Linked DNA regions of Homo sapiens. The protein of the gene in region 1 purifies or fractionates together with the protein of each later gene. This does not show direct contact. Each region holds a gene or a part of one and is shown on either strand. Other genes may lie near its edges.

Region 1 (3,500 bases):
CCCCAGGCACAACCTCACCTCCCCACCTGCTCTCCATTACAGGGAGCACCAGGTTGTGCTCTGTCTACTGGAGCCTCTTCTCGGCTTGGAAAGCCTGTCCTGACTCCTCCACCCACAGAAACCTGTCTCCCAAATCCTTGCCTGGCCTGGCCCTCAGACAAGCATCCACCTGCAATGCTGAGCGGGGTGGCCCCAGAGCAGCAGAGCCAAGAAGGAGCAGGGGAGGGAGTACTCACAGCAATGGAGACGGCGCTGATGACAGCTCCCAGGTATCCCTGGATGAACTTGGATGCAGGTGAAGGCTGGAAAACAGAGGCAGAATTTCAGGCCTGCTGGGTGCCCAAAGCTCCCATACTTCCCCTTGTAAGCTGTCCCAGCCAGCAAGAAGCATCCTGCCCACCAGCCTGGAAAGTGGGTAGAAGGAAGAGGCCCCTCAGGACTCAAAGGGATCAGGCCACCCTCAGCTCAGTTCCCAATGCAGAAATATAAATCACCAGTATCCAGGGAGATACTGAAGGGCCCACTTCACTCCTGCCCTGTTCTAGAAAGGTCACTGGCAGACAGTGCTGGGTGGAGGTGGAGAACAGCAAGGCTAACATGGACCATTGAAGGCTGGGGCAAGCAGTCTTCAGTTTAGAGGCTAAATGTTTCAAGGGGGCCATTTGGCATCTGGAGCGCTTTCTAGGTGGAAATGCCAGTGTCAAGGCTCTCACAGGCCTTGCCAGCCCATGGAACAGCTGGGCTCCCATGTCAACAGATGATAGCTGCCCAATATCTCTAGAGAATAATATACCCCAAGTTCCAACACAGACAATTAAGAAAAAGCTAAGGAACTTGCCCTGTGCTACAACTGCAGGTCTAGAAGTGTCTGGTTTAAGATAAAGGGAGTCATCCAAGCAGAGATGGCCATATGTGAAGCCTATGAGAGAGACTTGGGGTGGAGGTTTAGATGTCAGGGGGCAGCCACAGCATATCAGGCCTCTCAATTCCTATGGCCCAGGCCAGCTCCTATTCCCCTCCTCTCCCCCAAGGTGAGCAAATGTTAGGACTCTCCTCTACCCCAAACTGACAGGCCCCCAAAGGGGACTTAGATGCATCCTGCCTTCTTTGCCTTTGAATTGAAGTTGGGGAGAGGTGGCCTTGCCAGCAAAGCAGGGGCCCAGCAGCCCTTCCTGGACAACAGAAGGGTGACTGGGCCTCCACCACAAGCTCTCCAAGGAGTGCAGGGGCTCTGGGGGGGAGTTACCAGCCCTGGACCCTCCCCACTCAGGAGCAGCCCTTCAGCTTGTGGCCAGCAGTCGGGACCTGGGAGCGCTAAGGCAGCTTCCAGAAATTTTGGAGGAAGCTTTATGGGAATTTTGCCCCCAAGTAGCTGATACCATCATGATCCAAAACCCAAATGTAAGAGCTACCCAAGAAGAATCTGAAAGCCAGCCGAACTCATCCCTTGCACTGCTCCCATTTAATGGGCCTTCTTCACTTCATGTAAACAGCCCCTCCCCAGAGGGCTCCTGGCCCAGAAACTGCAGCTGACCTCAGCTGAGTCATGTCTGAGTCGGCCACCCACCTGAAGGGCTGGCATTTTAAATAAGATATCTAGAGGAGGGCCATGCTTAACCAAGAGGCAGCCACTGATGGTGGCATGTCACGCTGTAGGGAGGATGACTGGGCCTCCCTAGCCTGAACCCCACCACTGGGGAGAGGGCAGTGATGCTCACCTTGGTCGCATTGCGGTTTGCATAGTTGACACAGGCATTGTGGCTCTGGTTCAGCCACTGAAAGGCAATGATGAGAGAAGTCAGGGAAGGAGTGGTCACCTCCCTGGAAGCCAGGCCTGGACCCCAGGAGGCCACACATCCCCAGAAAGGCACAGCATGCGGTCTCCAGCTCACATGGTGCCGCCCATGCTGCCGGTCAGCATGACTGACCGTCCTGGTTTGCCCAGGGCTGTGCTGGTGTTAGCACTGGAAGCCCTGCCTCTCGGGAAGTCTCTCGGTTCCTGAATGGGGTCCTGCGCACCCCAGTAGTCCACCTGATCCTGAGACAGTCACCTCTCTTGGAATGATGGCATTCACTGCCCCTGCAGACCCCACTGCCTTTGTCACACCATCTTTATTATATTACCTGCTGGACAAAAGTTGGCCTAGAATGACTGACAGCCCTACAATTCTTTCAAAAATCTCCCAGTCCAGTATCCTGCACCTCCAGTTCCCAGACACAGAGGCCGGCAGGAGTTTAGTTCAGGGAAGACTGACATTTTCTCCTAGAAGACAGACAGGTTTTCCTTCCTGCCCGTCTTTCTCTGCACACACAAACACAGAGATATCCTCAGTTTTCATGGCATCACAACCCAGACTGTCTCCAAGAGCAGGGACCAGGGTCTGTGATGCACTTCACAACCTCAGGTTAGGGGTGGATTTAGCTTCCTCAGCAGATGTGGGGGAGGCTGATGTCAAAATGAGGCTATGGGCCTCAGGGTCACTGGCCTTGGGATGAGCAGCCAAGGGGCAGAGTGGGGGCCACCCCACTGACAAGCCAGCATGTTCCAGGCAGGGGCACGCAGCCCTCATGACCTCTGTCCAAAGGTTAGAGTGACACATGGTGGATTGAGACATGCTGGGCTGCTGGAGACCTGCTCAGCAGGGCCAAAGTCCTGGTTTTCCTTCAGTGGCTTCTGGGCTAGGGGTGGTGTTGGGGTGGACTGACCCTACACGGGGTCTGGACGGGGCAGGAGACACCACAGCAGGGAGTTCTTAACCAGCACCTGTGTGGGCCCTTCCTTCAGGAGCCCTGTTTGCTGCGAGACTGTTACCTGCCAGAAGACAGTGGATGCCAGTGTCTGGTTGGGCAAGAGAAGACCGACTACCTATGAGCAAGAGAGAAGAAATGCTGAAAAAGGCAGAAGAAACATCCTATGCTTTTGCAAAGAAAAAATACGCTACCACAAATGAGTGAGCTGGATCTGTACAAACTGATGTGGTATGCCGTGTACATACAAACTGAGGTTCATTGAGGGAGAGGCTGTGTGATGGGAAAAAACCAAGTTGCAGAATTATATTACAGCATAATCTTATTTATTTAAAGAAAAATCATTTTATATATAACGATATACACAAACACATGCATACACACATTATCTTCAAGCATGAAAAAACCTGTAGTGTGGATGTCTCTGGAGGTTGGGTTGCAGATTACTTTTGCACAATCTTAAATATTTCTGTATTCTTTTAAACAACAGACATGTATTATTTCCACAATTAGGGGGGCAATAAAAACAAGCAAACAAAAGGAATACCTTCGTTTCCACTCAGGTTACCTGACTGCTCACCCTAGCCTTCCCGTAGGATTTTTGCGAGGATTAAACAAAAATCATTTCAAAGGCCTTAAGTGCTTTGTAAATACAAGTTGGGGGAATTTGTATCTGTTATCTGTGAATTTCCATGAAGCAAAAACCTATACCAGGTTTAAGCAACTGAATGAAACATAGATTTCTAATATTT
Region 2 (3,500 bases), on another chromosome or scaffold:
AAGCAGTTTTAGCATGTGAGATCTGAAGAGCTCAATTGCTGCATGTGAGATTCACCAGAGGAACCTAGGGAAGATGACTGGGGACTTTAGGGGTCTGGATTTAGATTAGGTGCCCCTTCAGGCTACCTGTGTCTGTTGGCTTTGATGGCAGGACGACAGTGTTCAGTGTCTCCTGTGGATGGGTATTGGTAAGTTTCAGATATAATATGTCAAAAGCATAACTTAGAGACATTGTTAGTTATCCACATGCAAATTATTCTTATGTCAGAGACAGTCATTAGACTGTTCACAACAAACTTGCAGAACCAGGAAATAATAATAGAGAAAGAGGAGTTGGGGTATGGGAAGAAAACACATACATTCTGGAAGCGGTGGGTTTCTTTTCTTGGGTAAACAAATTAGCTCATAGGAAAGATGCTTGTCTGCTCTTGAACATGTATCTGGGATTATTAAGGAAAAAAATTAGTTCTTTATATACTCCCTGAAAAACCTTGAGAATTTAACTGTAGAGTGTGCATGACAGAGGCTATCTCTGTGTAGTGTCTGCCAGTGGCTGTCATTTAGTACCTGCACCAAGTCAGAACCATTTTCCTCCTCTGAATTTTCTCAGGGTTTGTGCTTTGCTTTTTTTTTTTTAAAGCAATAGGAAGAAAATGTAGATAATTTCATGTTGTTTATGTAGATGGTTCCACTTTTAAAATGGCATAGTAACTTCTTTATTTAGACCTGGTTAATACAAGATTATTTAGCATGTGGGATTTTTTGTTTGTTTGGCTGTGAAGAAATTTTATATTTAGGTTTTTGTTGGGCTATGTAATCAACACTGTCCTTTTACTAATGGTTGCCCATCATTCTAGGCTTTATCAACTCCTTTATCACCCCAGCTCAAAACACCAAACTTAAAAATATATATATTTGGTATACAGAAAGACCTGGCATAATGCACATTTTGAATGTGCATTTTTATTACTGAATTTGTATATGTAATGGATCACCACAAGTCTTCCAAGAATTACAAATATATTTCCATATTGGTGACAGGTGTTCTATTAAGCATTTAGTATGTGAGGGTGCTGTTCATCTTAGTTGGGGCTGTTCTGAATTAATTGTGACAAGCTAATAAGATATTTTGAAAGTTTCTTTCCAAGCTTCTTGAGCTAATGTTTTCCCTCTGGCCAGTGGGGTAGACTGAACTCTTGAAAGACATGTGGGCAGTTGCTGTTCATTTAAGCCAGATGGCATGTGTCAACTCCTTTTCCTGGAAAGGGAGAGGTTTCTTTTTTGGCTGCTGTAATAAAGCCTTGTGGACTTCTTATGAAACTCTTTTCTTTACATAAATTAGTACTTATAGAAGCTTTTCATAGAACTTTGGGCACTCCTCTTTCACTTATGAAGATTCTTAGATGGTTGTATATAAATGTTTTCATGTATAAATTGTTTTATTGAAATTGTGCTGTAGCAAGTTATTGATTAGGTTATTACATAAAAATAGTATTTTTTTAGGATAAAAATAAAGAGATTATATGACAAGGAGTGAGTGGCCCTTTAATATTTTTACCGGTTCCCCAAGCTGCTTACAGTCAAGATCTGAGTTAGTGGTTGGCTGGCAGTGGACAGCACTCTTAACAGTAGCATGTGGATGCTTAGGGAGCCCCTGGAAGCTGCCATGACCCACAGTCAGCCATGGATAGTCTTCTTTATGTGAGCATTGTAATTGCAGCTCTTGACTTTTAACACGCATAGTGAGTTATCACCTTAAATTGAATTTCGTTTTTCCTTTTTGGAAGAATAGAAGGTAGGTGAGTGAGTGAATTCTACAAGCATTTGATTTTCATTTATCCTGATTAAATCCTAAGATCCTGGATTTTAATGACACTTTTTATCTCCACATCCAGAATTCTAAGAAGTTGGGGTGTGAATTGGGCATTTGATAATAGTGACTTTTCTGTTTTCTGGTTTTCTTGGTAATGGATTTTAAAAGTCTGTTTTACTGGGAGACTTATCAAAATTTTCATTTCTTTAAGGTGTTGACTTTAAGGTGAAAACAATTTCAGTGGATGGAAATAAGGCTAAACTTGCAATATGGGTAAGAGTTTTTAAAATGTATTTTTAAAATATTAAACTTTACTTTTTAAGGATGCAGAAATTGATTTGTGTAGTGTTCTAGAGGTGGTGAATGAACAATTTGTATTAAATAACTTTTGGGAGATTTGATACTGATTAAAGGATAAACAGTAATGTCTTATAATTGGGTAATTAGGCAGCTATGTTTTGTTTAAATTTTCACAATGCATAATTCTTTATGAATATTTCAAAACAGAACAGAATATTAAAAAATCATCTCATCTGCCAAAGAGAATCATAATTGGATATGTTTCTTTGAAGTTTTAAAAAGACCATCTAGACTGAACTAACACTAAAGACAATTTTTAAGGGGAGGAGGAATGACGTGATATTTAGGAAAAAATTTTATTTTTCTTGTTTGTTAGTATAGATATTTATAAAATTTGAGGTTTCAAACTTTGGGCTTATTTTTAATGCCTCGTTTTTCCTTACTGGCTTCTTTTCGTTTTCCTGTCAATCCAACCATTCTGATCCCCGTTACTGTACTAGCTAGACCGCTCATGCTAGTGTCAAATAAGGTAGCATTAACTGTCAAAAATATCCAAGATGCTTAGTGTCTATGTTTGTCTCTCTCTGTGTCTCCCTTTCATCAGTCTATTTACCCACCCACATACCGATCTATCTATATCTGTCTATCTAAATATGATCGGTTATATATATATATGTATATTCTAAATATATACTGTTTTATATATCTATTTTTCACATAGACTGTGATAATTATACATATATGTTTGTAATATAAGAAATCATATTAGAACTGATCAGTCATCAAATCGAGACTTATTTCCACATGGTGGTTAAATGGTAAATGCTGTTTGTACATCAGTCACAGATTGAAAACAGCAAGTGTTCATGCATTGTATGATGTCATATTTCTTGGCATTCTCTGAATGGCACACTGTTTCTAATACACATTTATCCCCAAATAACAAATAATTGTGTAAGTGTGTTTAATGTTTTTATGTCAGTTTTTCCTAACATACAATACTTTAAATTTGTTAACCTGTTTGCCCCTTTCCCCCAAATATGTTTAATATCAATCAGAACGGTAATGTCTAACAGAAAACAATTTGGAAAATGTTGGACTAGAGTATGGTAAAATGTGTTGAACGATATAAGAATGTTGGCTTTTTCCATACTAAAGTGGGGGCCTGATTTCCATATGCTTTTCATGGTTAATTTATTATCCCTTTCCGGCCTTGCTGCTGCTTTGTGAAATCCGTAGATTAGAGTAGTATCTGAGACTTGCTGGTTGCAGTGAGATTTTTCTCTCATAGTTTCGTTTTGTTTTAAATTTATTTTCTAGTTCCTGCCTAATAAAAAGGCTGGCAGGTATTATTGAAGAGACATTTTTACCATAGGCCTATAAACAT
Region 3 (3,500 bases), on another chromosome or scaffold:
TTATTTATTTTTGAGATGGAGTTTCACTCTTGTCACCCAGGCTGGAGTGCAATGGCGTGATCTTGGCTCACTGCAACCTCCGCCTCCCAGGTTCAAGCGATTCTCCTGCCTCAGCCTCCTGAGTAGCTGGGATTACAGGCATGTGCCACCACGCCCCACTAATTTTGTATTTTCAGTAGAGACAGGGTTTCACCATGTTGGCCAGGCTAGTCTTGAACTCCTGACCTCAGCTGATCTGCCCGCCTTGGCCCCCCAAAGTGCTGGGATTACAGCGTGAGCCAGTGCACCCAGCCTCATTATTTTATTTTTTAACTTGATGTACTCTTCAACTTTTCATCATGAGCGTGCACTTCTTAATTTTGCAATAGGATTGTTGGCTCTTTACGGCTTGCCAGTGTTTCTCAAGATTTTTGTTTGTTTCTTTCTTTGATTGTTTGCTTTGTTAATGAGGCCCTCTGAGTCAGGCCCAAGTTGTCTTTCACAAGAATACTGTGATCCAGGCCCCCAGCCCCTTCTCCGGACCCAGGGGTCCAGATCCCAGCCCCTCCTCCCCCAGACACACGGGTCCAGGCCTCTAGCCCCTCCTCCCTCAGACTCAGGGGTCCAGGATCCCAGCCCCTCCTCCCTCAGACCCAGGAGCCCAGACCCCCAGGCCCTCCCCACCCAGACCCAGGAGCCTGGCCTTACAGTGACAGTGGCCAGCAGACCCTCTGGGACATTGGCCACGATGATGCCGATGAGGAAGATGACAGCCTCAAGCCAGGTGTATCCGAGAATGAGGGAGAGGATGAAGAAGGAGACACCCAGGAAGACAGCCACGCCGGTGATGAGCTGGATGAAGTGCTCAATCTCGATGGCGATGGGCGTCTTGCCCACCTCCAGCCCTGATGCCAGGGTGGCGATACGGCCCATGACAGTGCGGTCGCCCGTGGCCACCACCACGCCCCGAGCCGTGCCTGCAGGCCAGAGGGGTTAGGCTGAGGTGGGGTGGCTCAGGGAGGTTCTGGAGGCCTGACCCCCTGGGACACATCCCTGTGTCTGCCCCAGCTGTGTGTCTTCTCTGCACCCGCCTCACCTTCCACACAGTTGGTGGAAAAGAAGGTGATGTTCCGAGTCTCCAAGGGGTTGTCGTGAGTGCAGTCGGGAGAGCGAGTCTGGGGCTCGGATTCGCCAGTCAGGGAGGAGTTGTCCACCTGGGGGTAGGTGCAGCAGAGAGAGGGTTCAGTCCAGGGCCTGGGACAGGAGGGTATTTGTGTACAGGGCTTGGGGCTGAAGCCTGTGTGCCTGGAGATCACAGCTAGAAGCCTGGGTGCCCAGTGGGTGAGTGGTGTGTGGGAGGCCAGAGGCTGGGATCTTGAAGGTGGGGAAGGCACAGTGCTGCTGGCCAAGGTCTAGGGTCCCTAAGGATCTCCGAAAGGTGAGGGCTGGGCCTGGACTCCTGACTGTTGGGTGAGGAGGTGGCCCAGGGCCTAAACTCCTGGGTCTGAGGGAGGAGGGCCTGGGGGCCTGGACTCCTGGGTCTGAGGGAGGAGGGGTTGGGACCTGGACTCCTGAGTGTGAGGGAGGAGGGGCTGGGCCTGAGCTCCTGGGCAGCCCGAGGGAGGGTAAAGCCGGGCCCTAGGCCCAGGCCCACCTTGCAGCCGTGGGCTGAGATGATCCGCAGGTCAGCTGGCACTCGGTCTCCACCCTTGATCTCCACCAGGTCCCCGACCACCACCTCCTCAGCGTTCACCTGCATCTTCTCACCTTCCCGGATCACCAGGGCTTGCTGAGGTGGGATGGAGTAATGTCACCTCCCAGACTCCCTCTGCCTGGGGGTCACTGGGCCCGGCCCCCAGCCCATACACTAACACCCCCGTCTGGCCCCTTGCTGGGCACCCTTCACCTGGGGCACCATGTTCTTGAAGGACTCCATGATCTTGGAGCTCTTGGCCTCCTGGTAGTAGGAGAAGCAGCCAGTGATGATCACCACGGCCGCCAGCACGATGCCCAGGTACAGCTGTGGGGAGATGTGGGGATGTTGATCAGGGGCCGCCCAAGCCACTCTCCACCAGTCCCTGCTCGCCTGGAGTCTGGGAAGGGAGCTTTGTGTCAGTGGGGGTCTGTATTTGTGTGTCTGACCCTAGGTTGGTTATGAGGGTTGGTGTGTCTGAGTCTCCCCTGTTTGTGCTTGAGTCCCTCTTTCTGTAATGGTTGTGTTTGAATCTAAGGGTCTGTCGATTTTTTTTTTGAGACAGAGTCTCACTCTGTCGCCCAGGCTGGAGTGCAATGGCATGATCTTGGCTCACTGCAATCTCCGCCTCCTGGTTCAAGCGATCCTCCTGCCTCAGCCTCCTGAGTAGCTGGGACTACAGGTGCATGCCACCACACCTGGCTAATTTTGTGTATTTTTAGTAGAGATGGGGCTTCACCATGTTGGCTAGGATGGTCTTGATCTCCTGACCTTGTGATCTATCACCTTGGCCTCCCAAAGTGCTGGGATTACAGGTGTGAGCCATCTTTCCTGGCATTTTTTTTTTTTTTTTTTTTTGAGACAGGGTCTCGCTCTGCTGCCTAGGATGGAGTACAGTGGCACAATCTCAGTTCACTGTAGCCTCAACCTCCCAGATTCAAGCAATCCTCCCTCCTCAGCCTCCGGAGTAGCTAGGACTACAGGTGTGCGCCACCAGGCCCGGCTATGTTTTGTGTTTTTTTAGAGGCTGGGTCTGTCTGGGTATGTTACTCAGGCTACTGGAACTCCTGGTCTCAAGTTACCCTCCTGCCTTGGCCTCCCAAGGTGCTGGGATGACAGGCGTGAGCCACCATGCCCGACTTGTCCATCTGTTTTGTGTGTGTGTCTGTCCTCCTGCACATGTTGAGTCTGGGATGCGGCTGTCTGTCCATGTGTCTGTCTGACTGGCTGCATGCCTGACTTTACATTCTACAAGGCAGCTTCTTTGGTTCTCTGTGTGTGGATCTCTGTCTCTGTGTCTCCAGCTCTGCCTCTCTGTGAGAGCTTATGTCTAAGACTGTTTAGATTTGAACATCTGAGGACACTCTCTGTGCCTGACTCTCATGTCTCTCTGTCACCAGGTTATGCCTGCATTGCTGTGTGTGTGTGTGCGTGTCAGTGTGTGTGTGAGTTTCTCTGTCAGTGTATATCTGAGTCTGTGTCTGTGTTTCTGAATTAGGTGGCCATGTTTGAAACCACATCCTGGTGTGGCATCTGCGTTGACCCTCCGTGCACATGCGTGTGTGTGCACACACGCCTACCCAGGTGAGCAGCTCTGTGTGGCTGGTGTGTGGTCTGTGTTATGCGCATGGGATCTGAGGCTGCATCTCGAATGTGTCCCTGTGTTATGGGGATGGGCCCTGATGTATCAGCAGCGGGGTGTGCCTGGGTCTCTATGTGACACTCACTCTGGGTATCTGTCAAGCCATGACCACCTGCTGGTGTCTGTTCTCAAGGCCGCTGAGGTCACACAGCCTTGGGACAGAGCCCCGGCTCACACATCCTGCTG
Region 4 (3,500 bases), on another chromosome or scaffold:
CATTGGACTTCACTGATGTGCACCATGCTTGCTTCTATTATTATGAAAATTTTAAATTGTGGAATCTCCATACAATGTATTAGGTAGCTATTAAAAATGAATATTTACTGACATGAAAAGTTGTCCATGATATATGAGAAAAATGCCATACCATCTCATTTTTGTTTGCTATTTATAAATATATTTCACTTTTTTGAAGTACTGGATATAAGAGAGGAGGCAATTCTGCACCTGGCCCTTTGTGGCCTTACCTGTGCTGGCTTGAGCACTAAGGTATTGCCTGCTGCCAAACACGCAGCACTCTTCCATGCCAGCATCATCAGCGGGTAGTTCCAGGGAATAATAATGGCACAGACACTGCAGGGGAAGAAATTCGACATGCTTAGTTGTTTCAAATAACACAACTCATGATTCACTCAGAGGCACTCTCCTTATCTTACCCGAGTGGCTCTTTCTTGGTGAAGGTCAGATTGCGATTTGGACGGGCCTGGTTGATTGGAATAGTAGAACCCTAAAGAATGAGAAAAGTTGATACTTATTTTACTAATTTAAATAAGTAAATTTCATCTCAAAGGATCCATTTTCTGTCTTCCTCTCTTACTTTTTGTTAGCTGATATGAAAAGAGCGTTTGTTGATAAGAACTATATTCATGCCAAAGAAGGAACAGCTATTTGTTTCTCAAGAGAACCATGAAACACAGAAGAATAAACATAATTCTAATTTAGTCCATTCCTAATTGCTTGGCCTGGCAGAGAATGTGAACTGCCTGCCTATTATCCACTCTCCCCTCTGTCCTTAGTAACAGAATCCCTATATTAATAATGGGGACAGGAATATGCCCAGATCAAATACTATGGTTCCCATTCTCCAGATTAGGGATGGTCAGTGGAAGATACAAGCACAAGGCATTGGAAGGGGAATGCTACTTAAACTAGGCTAACTCTACTCTTTTATTCTTCCCTCCATGTCTGCTTCCTCCTTCTTCCTGTTTAGACTGTTGCTGAAATGGCTGGCACTGCAGTGGTTTTCTTGAGACCATGAGTCAACCTTCAGGGTGGAGGTCACATGGCCTGGCAAAGACAGAAAAAGAGTTTGCATCTCACATACTAGTCCTAACTGCCTGTCTCTGGACTCCTTGAAAGTGAGAGAAAAATAATAGGATTAAAAAAACAGGAATAAGTTGGCTGTTATATGCAGCCAACTTAATCCTAACGGAATCACAATAGTAGCCTTTAATGAAAGCTATTCATTTGCTTTGCCACATAAAATATTATTGCTACTACTAATAGGGTGTACAATTTCTTAAAACACTTGTAGCCAGTTATGTTTTGGAATTCAGAATTTTTTGGACTTTAGAAGTGTAATATAGTGCATATACCTTATATTATCTACTACCCCAGCAGGATTTGGGTAAGCCTCCCATAATCAAACATGCTAGTATTTATTCACTGAAACATTTGAATATTCACTCTAAGTGATGTAAATAAATATTATTAATAGATTATGTTCATTTAGGTCAGGGTTTGGCATCAAACGAGTTTGAACCAATCAAACAATTTTCAGGTTTCAGAACTATTTGGGTTTCATAATTGGGGATAACAGATGGACCTGAACTACCATTAGTAAATATCAATATATGCATGACTTTGTGGCTGAACCACAATAAAAATTTCATTTTTGTGCAAACCTGCTATGTTGCAGACTTGTCTAATCCTGTAGTGTACAAATACTCGTTTCCAATCCTCAAAACATAACTTGCAAAGTATGTATTACTGTGACCATTTTATAGAGGAGGAAAGTAAGGTTCTGAGAGAGAAAATAACTTTAACAACATCGGCTGATAAGGGCCAGAGCTGAGACTTGACTCAGGTCTGTCTGACTGTACATTAACATTGGTGGCAGCAATGTATGCAGATGAAATATGATGTTTCCCAGTCTCCTTAGCAGATAGAGATGGCCAAGGAGGGATATGAGCAAAAGGTACTGGGAAGGTAAGAATGCTTTGTTAAATTCCTCTTACCACTCCCCCTTTCTCACTTCCTTCTTTTTGCTGCTGGGAATGTGGTTGCAATGACTGGTACTGCAGTGGTTATTATGAGTCTATGAGGAACATGCATACTGCAGTTTGCTACAAGCCCTACATCTCCCTTTTGTATCCCCAGTGCTGGAGCTAGTGTTGTTGCCGTTGATCACCCTGTGTTTGCTATTTATTATCATACAGTAAAATGAAATATTTATTTATTATTCCTGTATCTTTATCAAAGTTTTTCTTTAAAAAAATTTTTTTTTGGCCAGGCGCAGTGGCTCATGCCTGTAATCCCAGCACTTTGGGAGGCCAAGGCAGGTGAATTACTTGAGGTCAGGAGTTCGAGACCAGCCTGGCCAACATGGTGAAACCCCGTCTCTGCTAAAAATACAAAAATTAGCCAGGCGTGGTGGTGCACACCTGTAATCCCAGCTACTAGGGAGGCTGAGGCAGGAGAATTGCTTGAACCCAGGAGGCGAGGTTGTAGTGAGCTGAGATGGCGCCACTGCACTCCAGCCTGGGCGACAGAGCAAGACTCCATCTCAAAAGAAAGAAAAAAAAATTTTTTTTTAATTTATTTCTCCTAGGACACATATTCAAAGACAAAGTTTTTCTTATACTCAGTCTGCTTCCACCATCTACGGTAGCTCTCTGGCCTCTGTAGGTATTTGAATTTGTAAACCCTACATGATACTAGGCTTCTCCAAAGTGTCTAGAAAACTATTCAACACCCTCAGGAGATATTATAGTAAAATGCAAAGAAGATCATTAGACTTTAGATTCGGAAAATCTTGACTTCAAATCTGGTCGTATGGGTTACTTGCTACAAATTATAGGAAAGGCATCCATGTCCTCAAGCCTTTGTTTGCTCACATGTAATAAGGGGATAAGAGCTATCCATTTACTTCCCGTAGTTGTTATAACCATTGCGAGGGTCTGAAAGTGTCTCCTAAAATGCATGTGCTGGAAACTTAACCCCTAATGCCACGGTGTTGGGGGGTAGGGCCTAATAGGAGGTGTTTAGGTCGTGAGGGCTCCACCTTAATGAATGGATCAATGCCGCTATAAAAAGGGCTTGCAGGAGTGGATTCACTCTCTTCTACTCTTCTGCCAGGTGAGGACACACCGTTCCTCTGCTCCAGAGGATGCACTACAAGGCACCATCTTAAAACTAGAGGCCAAACCTGCTGACACCTTTATCTTAGACTTCCCGGCCTCCAGAACTGTAAGAGAATAAATTTCTGTTCTTTATAAATTACCTAGTCTCAGGTATTCTGTTACAGCAGCATAAAATGGATTGAGACAACCCTGTTATGTTGGTGTAAAAAAATCTACATAAAAAGAGGATCTGACACAGTGCCTGGTACAAACTAATCAATGTTAGTCCCTTTTTCTTTCAGAACAAATAATATTTGTGCTTACCTGAATTTTGTCGCACCAGCCAGCAAAATATCTGAATGTTTGCACAGACAT
Region 5 (3,500 bases), on another chromosome or scaffold:
AAAAACTTCTGGCTGGCAGGGGGGCTGTGGCTCATGCCTGTAATCCCAGCACTTTGGGAGGCACAGGCAGGAGGATCACTTTAGTCCAGGAGTTTGAGACCAGCCTGGGCAACATAGGGAGACCTCATCTCCACAAAAAATTCAAAAATTAGCCAGGCATGGAGGTATGCGCCTGTGGTCCCAGCTACTTGGAAAGCTGAGGCAGGAGGATCACCTGAGCCTGGAAGGTTGATGCTGCAGTGAGTAATGATCACGCCACTGCATTCCAGCCTAGGCAACAGAGTGAGACCCTGTTTCAAAACAAAACAAACAACAGAAAAACACACTAACTTTTGAAAAGTCCATTTCATTTCATATTCATTTCCATATTTTTCTCTCATTGAGCTTCTAAACAAGCACAGTACTATGTAAGAAAGAGATCATTTCTGTTTTTGAGTACCCTCTCAACCAGCTCTTTGTCCTACTTATAATGGTTCTGACGATGAGTGCAAATAACTCTATTCTTCCGCTAGTTTCATTAAAATCATCTTAATACTAAACCTATGCTTTCTTCCCTGTGCTCTAGGCCATTGCTCTTTGATACAGCCCATCCATCTTTGGAGACTGCCTAATTCCCTTACTTCATTTACACTGCTACCTTGAAAGTATTAATAGATAATCACATCCCCCTAGTGCTCCCTGTTCCTAAGTTTAGCTCCTTCAGGCTTTTCTCCTAAATCTTAAGCTACCATCAACATAGATTCTATGTCTCTTCCAAAATGTGGTTAGAAAGTATTCTTATTTGGAGTTCAATCCTAGTAGAAAACAGTAATGCTGTTAGGTTAGCACCATACTTTTGATACGTGATCACTATGTTATTTGTGTAAGGGTAATTCAATGACAGTTCACTGCAAGCTATTTGAAACCTCTTTATACTTGCTTTTTTCCAGGTAGCAGTTTCCTGGTTTGCATTAAGGCCATTTATTTCATCTCCCTTGATGCACGATTTGAGATTCAGCATTAATGAATATAATTTCAATGCTGGAGCTCCTTGTGCTATTTTTTTCCAGTTGTTCGGCAATGATTCCCAAACCTGCTAAACTCGTATAATCAAAAAAATCCCAAGTTAAATTTAACACATTCCTTCAATCTATGAATTTAGAAGTTTTTCACAGATAGTTGCCAACAAAGGAGGACATCTTGTTGCCTTTTTTTCCTCCAGGAAGCAGTGTCTAAAAACTAGGAAATAATCCCACTACTCTAGGATCTTAAACATGAACGGCAGATGATTCTTTAGTGATGGTTCTGCTTACCCTCTCTCTCTCTTCCCTTGGCCAGTATTCAAGTCAATCTGTACTCAACAGAAATGTGCCTCAGACTACAGCAACCAAGTAAAGCATTTGGCTTAGAATAAACATTAGTACTCCCAGCCCTGCAAACTCAAAGGCTCAGGAATAAGGAACACAAGGTCTAATTTAAAAGGAAGGTCAACTGAATATACTGGAAAAGTTATGTCTTGATTATATTCAAATTACTGTGGCTTCCCCTTTTTCTAAAGTTCTAAAAGGAAAAAAAATCGCTATATATAATGGCTAATGTATAAATCCAAAATGTTTTATTTTCTTTACTCATAATGACTAATAACAGTATATGCTGATATTACTGATAAATGTCTAGTGAAAATCCTTGTGTTAACAAAAATCATAATTATTCCAGACTAACATGGCATGTAAAAAATAAACAAAAGCCCCAAACTACTCCATACCTGAAAATGCTGTTTTTCAAACTGAGTTTCACGGCCCATGAATTGTGAATTCAATTTAGAAGGTCACTATGGTTCTCTTAACTACCTCACACAGATTAATAATAGGTAATGTTTCACAAGATATTACATATTTGTGTAATTTTGTTATAAATTTCTATTAGTCAAAAACTACTTCTCTATCTGGGTCACAGACAAAAAAGTTTGAAAGCCTTTTTCTAAAGAGCTTTTTTTTTTTGAGACGGAGTCTGGCCCTGTCACCCAGGCTGGAGTGCAGTGGCATGTTCTCGGCTCCCGGGTTCACGCCATTCTCCTGCCTCAGCCCCGAGTAGCTGGGACTACAGGTGCCGGCGACCACCCCTGGCTGATTTTTTGTATTTTTGGTAGAGATGGGGTTTCACCGTGTTAGCCAGGATGGTCTCGATCTCCTGACCTCGTGATCCGCCCACCGCAGCCTCCCAAAGTGCTGGGATTACAGGAGTGAGCCACCGCGTCCGGCCAAGAGCTTTATTTTTCAAGTAATTTCAACATGATTACATGTGAACCAAATATTATCTTTTACTCATATAAACTAACCCCTACTGACTACATTTCAGGTCCTAGAAAATTCTAGTTTGCAATGTAATTTTTAGGTTATTTTTAAATTAATAAGTAGCAAGGGTGTAGCTGAAACTAGATGATGAATACACAGGGGTTTATTCATTACTTAATCTATTTTTGTACATGTTTGAAATTCTAAAGATCTAAAAGAAAAAAAGGAAAAGAAATGGACCTAACAGATAACAAAGTAGTACCATGAATGTTTACAACTTGAGACCTTTAAACACAATGTTTCTAAGGAATAACAATCAAGGAACTTGCTAGGATTTAATTCAGTTAACACTTGGGGTTGCCTTCTTCGACTATAATGGACGGATTTCCAGGTCTTAAAAAATGCATAAGGGACTGCAGAAACTAACTCATATATAGAAAACAAACTTTCTCGAAAGATAACATAAAAATACAAATAGTTAAGTGTGTTTCATTGTCTCTTTATTAGTCAACCACTTTCAGCCAACAGAAAGATCATAAAATACCTACCTACCTGGCAGGAATATTCACTTCTTTATTCACACTGGCAATTTTCCCAGCAAGTTTAATATAAGATCTCTGCATAACAGACACGGTTCTGCCTCCCTTGAAACAAGAACTGCAAGGGTTGTCTGAAGTAGATTTAGAGGCATTTAGATTTCAAAACAGTGCATGCCTCAAAGTTAATTTTCATTATATTCAAAAGTAAGTTTCTAAAAACTTTTAAACAGAAAGTGTTATCATCTCTGAGCCTTTAACCTATTGGAGACAGTATCTAAGCTATAAGGGCAAGATATTTAGTAATTTTTAGAACTGAAAGGAAATTTAGACATCATCTAGTCCAATGGTTTCCAAATCCTACCATCAGGAAGAAAAGAATCTCAAAGGCATAACAATTTATATATGCAAAACAAACTCTTACTTGTGTGTTTTCCTGTATCTTCCTGCACATGAAATACTATGCCTTATTAGTATTCTATCAGGAAAGGATGTGACATTTCGTTATGCATTTTATATTTAATCACATTTAGTATGTGAGTATCCATTTAGATATGATTAAAACTATTGGTACGATTTGGGACTTAATGCTTTCTAATTATAGAAACTTACATAATATATCCAACCCTAATACTTTCAGAGTGATTTCATACCATCTCATTTATATTTCACTGTCTAGTAAATTTGAAGT
Region 6 (3,500 bases), on another chromosome or scaffold:
GTGTCTGCATGTGAATGTCACACACATCTCAAACTCAAGGAGTATAGAATGGAACTTGCCATATATTATTCTCTCTTTGTGTTTCTACTGTCAATGAACAGGACCTAGTATTCCGTAAACAGGATCTAATAATGTTCAGTAAACACCCTACGTTTAAGGTAAAATCCTAGGCTCAGATTGCTTTTGGCAGTAACGGCAGACTAAGGAACTAAATAGCCCTCCTATAACAAAACAAGTAGATTCTGAATAAAACTTGAATTTTAAAGCCTTAGGATTTGCAGGAGGTAAAGAATATCCCAATGGTGCCTTTCCATTGTTTATTCCCCTCCCCACTCAAAAAATAAAACAAAGCAAAAGCTATGTGCTATAAAGACAGTAGGAGCTGTATACATTAAGGGAAGTTAAAAAAGCAGAATTTGCCCTGAGGAAAAAAATCCAAAATCAATATCGCTCTAAAGAGAACAAGCCTTGCAGCAGTAGTAGACAGGGGAGAAAAATCTGAACTTCTCCTCCTCACATTAGGGCAGAGACTTATGGTAGCCTGAAAATCCTGAGGATCCCATCATCAAATCTTCTTTGGGGGAAAACATCACCTATTTAGGTCTTAGAATAGGATCAGACAAATATACACTAAAAAAGAAAAAAAAATAGCTGTCTGAGAAAGAATCAGCAAAAACAATGACCACACTATTTAGATCACCAAAATTTTAGATAATGGGATCATCCAATATGGAATATACAAAAATCATACACGGAATATTTAAAATCATAAAAGATAAAATTGAGAAATGAACGGTTCACATGAAACTATAAAATACTTGGCAGATGTAATAAGTGTCAAATTTAATTTTAGATATGAAAAATGTTTGTTGGAATTTCTACTTCAGTGAGTAGATTACATAGAATATTAAACAAGATGAAGGGAGAGTTAATAAACCGGTAAATACATCTGAAGAAATTGCTCCAAATACAGCACAGAGTAATAAGGAAAGAGATTACATATAATAGAGGTTTAAAAATATGAGGAAAAGATGAAAATGGCAAGCTTTCAAAGAAGTCAGAAGGTGAAAATAAAGAGAGTGGAGAAGTATAGCTGAAGAGTACATTTATCAAGCTTGACACCCAACCAACAGGAAAACACACATTTTTCTTGAACACACATAGACCCTTTGTACAAAATGCCCATGTACTTGTTCATGAAAAATTTCCAATCAACTTTAAAGATCATAACATGTTCTCTGATGATGACTCAATTAGTCTAGAAGTCAATAGTAAAAAAGGTAAATTTTAAAAGCCTCTGTAATTAGGAAATGTGATCTAATTCATAATTTAATGTATTTCCAATAAAATGTTAGTAAGATGTATTGATAGATGGATTACAGATCTCGACAAGGTGAGTTTAATATTTATATGAAGGACAAAAGCCCTAAAATACCCAAACACTTGTGAAGAAGAAAAAGTAAGGAGATTTGTCCTGTATATAGTAAGATTTCTTATAAAACAATAGAAATTAATACAGTGGGACACTGATCTAAGTACTGACAGAGCTTTAGAAGAGGAGAGCCCAGAAAATATACATAAAACAGGTGACTTTGCAAGATATTGCCAAAAGAAAGGATTAGTTAACAAATGGTGCTTGAAATTTGGCTATCCATCAAGAAAAAAAACCCCACGAAACTGAATCTCTACCTTATATAATACATAAAAACCAATTCCAAATGGAATAGATTTTGACGTGTAAGACAAAGCTTTAAAATATTCAGAAAAAAATACACAAAAATAACACCTAGATGGAATTTGGTAGGAAAATTCTTCTAAAAGAAGATGCACAGGCATATAAAACTCATCATAAAAATAAAAGATTCATACATTTGACAGATTAAATTGATAATTAATGTTAGTGAAATAAAATCATAGAGAAAATGAAAAGATAAACCAAATTTGGGAGAAAAAATATACATCTGAATTACATTCTCAATCTTTACATATATGGAGATATTCATTTTCAACATTTTATATTGAGGTAACTGATTATATGAAAGAAATGATTGTCTCAAAACACAACTATGGCTTTGTCAATAGATACTCTTTGGAACTACGTTATTAGATAAGTGAGGTGAGACGGATGAGCACACACTGCTGTCATTCCCTAAATGAAATGCCAAAAGGTTGGTTATAGCTACACTGGCAATACTGCATTTAAAGTTCAAGAATGTTTTTAAAAATGTATTGCTCAAGATCTTTATGAAACATGCCCCCCAAAAATGAATTTTTAAAAAGTCTCTAAGTAACCATTGAACAAATAGTTTTTAAAACAGCATTTTGGCATGGCTTGCTTTGCTAAACTTTTGTAATTGTTAGCAGTTTTAATTCAAAATTGATACCCCAAAACTTAATGAAGGGAGAAGAAGTAAATGCTTTTCTTCATAAACTTTATAGGATATCTTTATATGATCTTGAAATGATAGTATAAATGCGAGTCACTGCAAAGCTTTTAAACGGGTTAAAATTGTTTCTGGTATCCAATTGCTTACACGACTTCACTGCATCCTTGTCTCTATCATGTTTCCCTCAGAGTTAACATTATACCATCTCTCTATGCCAACTAATGTTATACAATTTCTCATTTATTACAGCACATCAATTTGCTGCAGTCTTCCACCCTCCACAATACCACTGGTCTTGCTGTTTGAATTACAAAGAGGAACAATGGTTTCGTACATCCTAGAAAAATAGCAAGCATTTAAGAGAACTCCTCTACAGATTCCAATCCTGGCCCTACTATTCCCTAGCCATTTACCTGACTCTCCAAGAACCCACACTTCACCCCTCCCCACAAGCTCCCCTCACTCCTCCCCTTTCTCTCCTTGGTAATATGGGGGTAGTGACAGTGCAGGCACTGTTCTTCATAGAATGAATATGACAATGAAATGAGATAATACATATAAATAGTTAAGCCCCATGTCTGCATCTATTAGGGGTTGTAGCAAGTTGCTACAATGTAATGAAAATGTTATCTAATTTAACAAAAATAGCCAGCTGTTATCGAACCCCTAATATTTGCAGACATTGGGCTTATAGAAGGATTCTTCTCCTTTCATTAAGTTTTAGGGCATAAATTTTGAATAAAAATTATTAACAGTTAAAACACATGTATATGACAGCTTGGTCCCAGGATTCTGTCACAATAAAGCATGTGTACCTCTTCAGGGCATCCACTGTCCACCCAGTCCTGCCGATGACGATCAAATCCACTGGAACATCTTCAAAGAAGACCACAATGCAGTTCAGAAAAGGAAGGATAGGGTGCAGGGTGGTGGACAGAAATTAAAAGTAAAAGATTAGTAGGTAGTTCATTCTCACATTTTCAGTTTAGCATAACATTAACTCTTCTATAGAACTCGCAACTGGAGAAGCAGGGAAATATTTAGAGGGTTGCTAAATAATCACTCATTCCTTAGGATGTCACTGTTAGGATCGCACATGGCAACCAAATCACT

Evidence for each region.
Region 2: the proteins of SFXN5 (region 1) and RAB18 purify together in Homo sapiens (co-immunoprecipitation; one large-scale study listed by IntAct). This does not show direct contact.
Region 3: the proteins of SFXN5 (region 1) and ATP1A3 purify together in Homo sapiens (affinity purification with mass spectrometry; one large-scale study listed by BioGRID and IntAct). This does not show direct contact.
Region 4: the proteins of SFXN5 (region 1) and ALDH1L2 purify together in Homo sapiens (co-immunoprecipitation; one large-scale study listed by IntAct). This does not show direct contact.
Region 5: the proteins of SFXN5 (region 1) and NPTN purify together in Homo sapiens (co-immunoprecipitation; one large-scale study listed by IntAct). This does not show direct contact.
Region 6: the proteins of SFXN5 (region 1) and PLXDC2 purify together in Homo sapiens (affinity purification with mass spectrometry; one large-scale study listed by BioGRID and IntAct). This does not show direct contact.

What each region holds. Positions count from the first base shown.
Region 1 is NC_000002.12:72,998,713-73,002,212, forward strand, and holds part of SFXN5 (sideroflexin-5), read right to left. Parts: intron 2,867-3,500; coding exon 2,813-2,866; intron 1,776-2,812; coding exon 1,719-1,775; intron 303-1,718; coding exon 237-302; intron 1-236. UniProt on the Homo sapiens protein: Mitochondrial amino-acid transporter. Transports citrate. Does not act as a serine transporter: not able to mediate transport of serine into mitochondria.
Region 2 is NC_000010.11:27,524,804-27,528,303, forward strand, and holds part of RAB18 (ras-related protein Rab-18), read left to right. Parts: intron 1-2,024; coding exon 2,025-2,086; intron 2,087-3,500. UniProt on the Homo sapiens protein: The small GTPases Rab are key regulators of intracellular membrane trafficking, from the formation of transport vesicles to their fusion with membranes.
Region 3 is NC_000019.10:41,984,231-41,987,730, forward strand, and holds part of ATP1A3 (sodium/potassium-transporting ATPase subunit alpha-3), read right to left. Parts: intron 2,000-3,500; coding exon 1,886-1,999; intron 1,769-1,885; coding exon 1,634-1,768; intron 1,194-1,633; coding exon 1,076-1,193; intron 957-1,075; coding exon 688-956; intron 1-687. UniProt on the Homo sapiens protein: This is the catalytic component of the active enzyme, which catalyzes the hydrolysis of ATP coupled with the exchange of sodium and potassium ions across the plasma membrane.
Region 4 is NC_000012.12:105,046,459-105,049,958, forward strand, and holds part of ALDH1L2 (mitochondrial 10-formyltetrahydrofolate dehydrogenase precursor), read right to left. Parts: coding exon 3,450-3,500; intron 512-3,449; coding exon 441-511; intron 358-440; coding exon 252-357; intron 1-251. UniProt on the Homo sapiens protein: Mitochondrial 10-formyltetrahydrofolate dehydrogenase that catalyzes the NADP(+)-dependent conversion of 10-formyltetrahydrofolate to tetrahydrofolate and carbon dioxide.
Region 5 is NC_000015.10:73,623,390-73,626,889, forward strand, and holds part of NPTN (neuroplastin isoform b precursor), read right to left. Parts: intron 1-3,500. UniProt on the Homo sapiens protein: Probable homophilic and heterophilic cell adhesion molecule involved in long term potentiation at hippocampal excitatory synapses through activation of p38MAPK. May also regulate neurite outgrowth by activating the FGFR1 signaling pathway.
Region 6 is NC_000010.11:20,211,432-20,214,931, reverse strand, and holds part of PLXDC2 (plexin domain-containing protein 2 isoform 1 precursor), read right to left. Parts: intron 3,264-3,500; coding exon 3,203-3,263; intron 1-3,202. UniProt on the Homo sapiens protein: May play a role in tumor angiogenesis.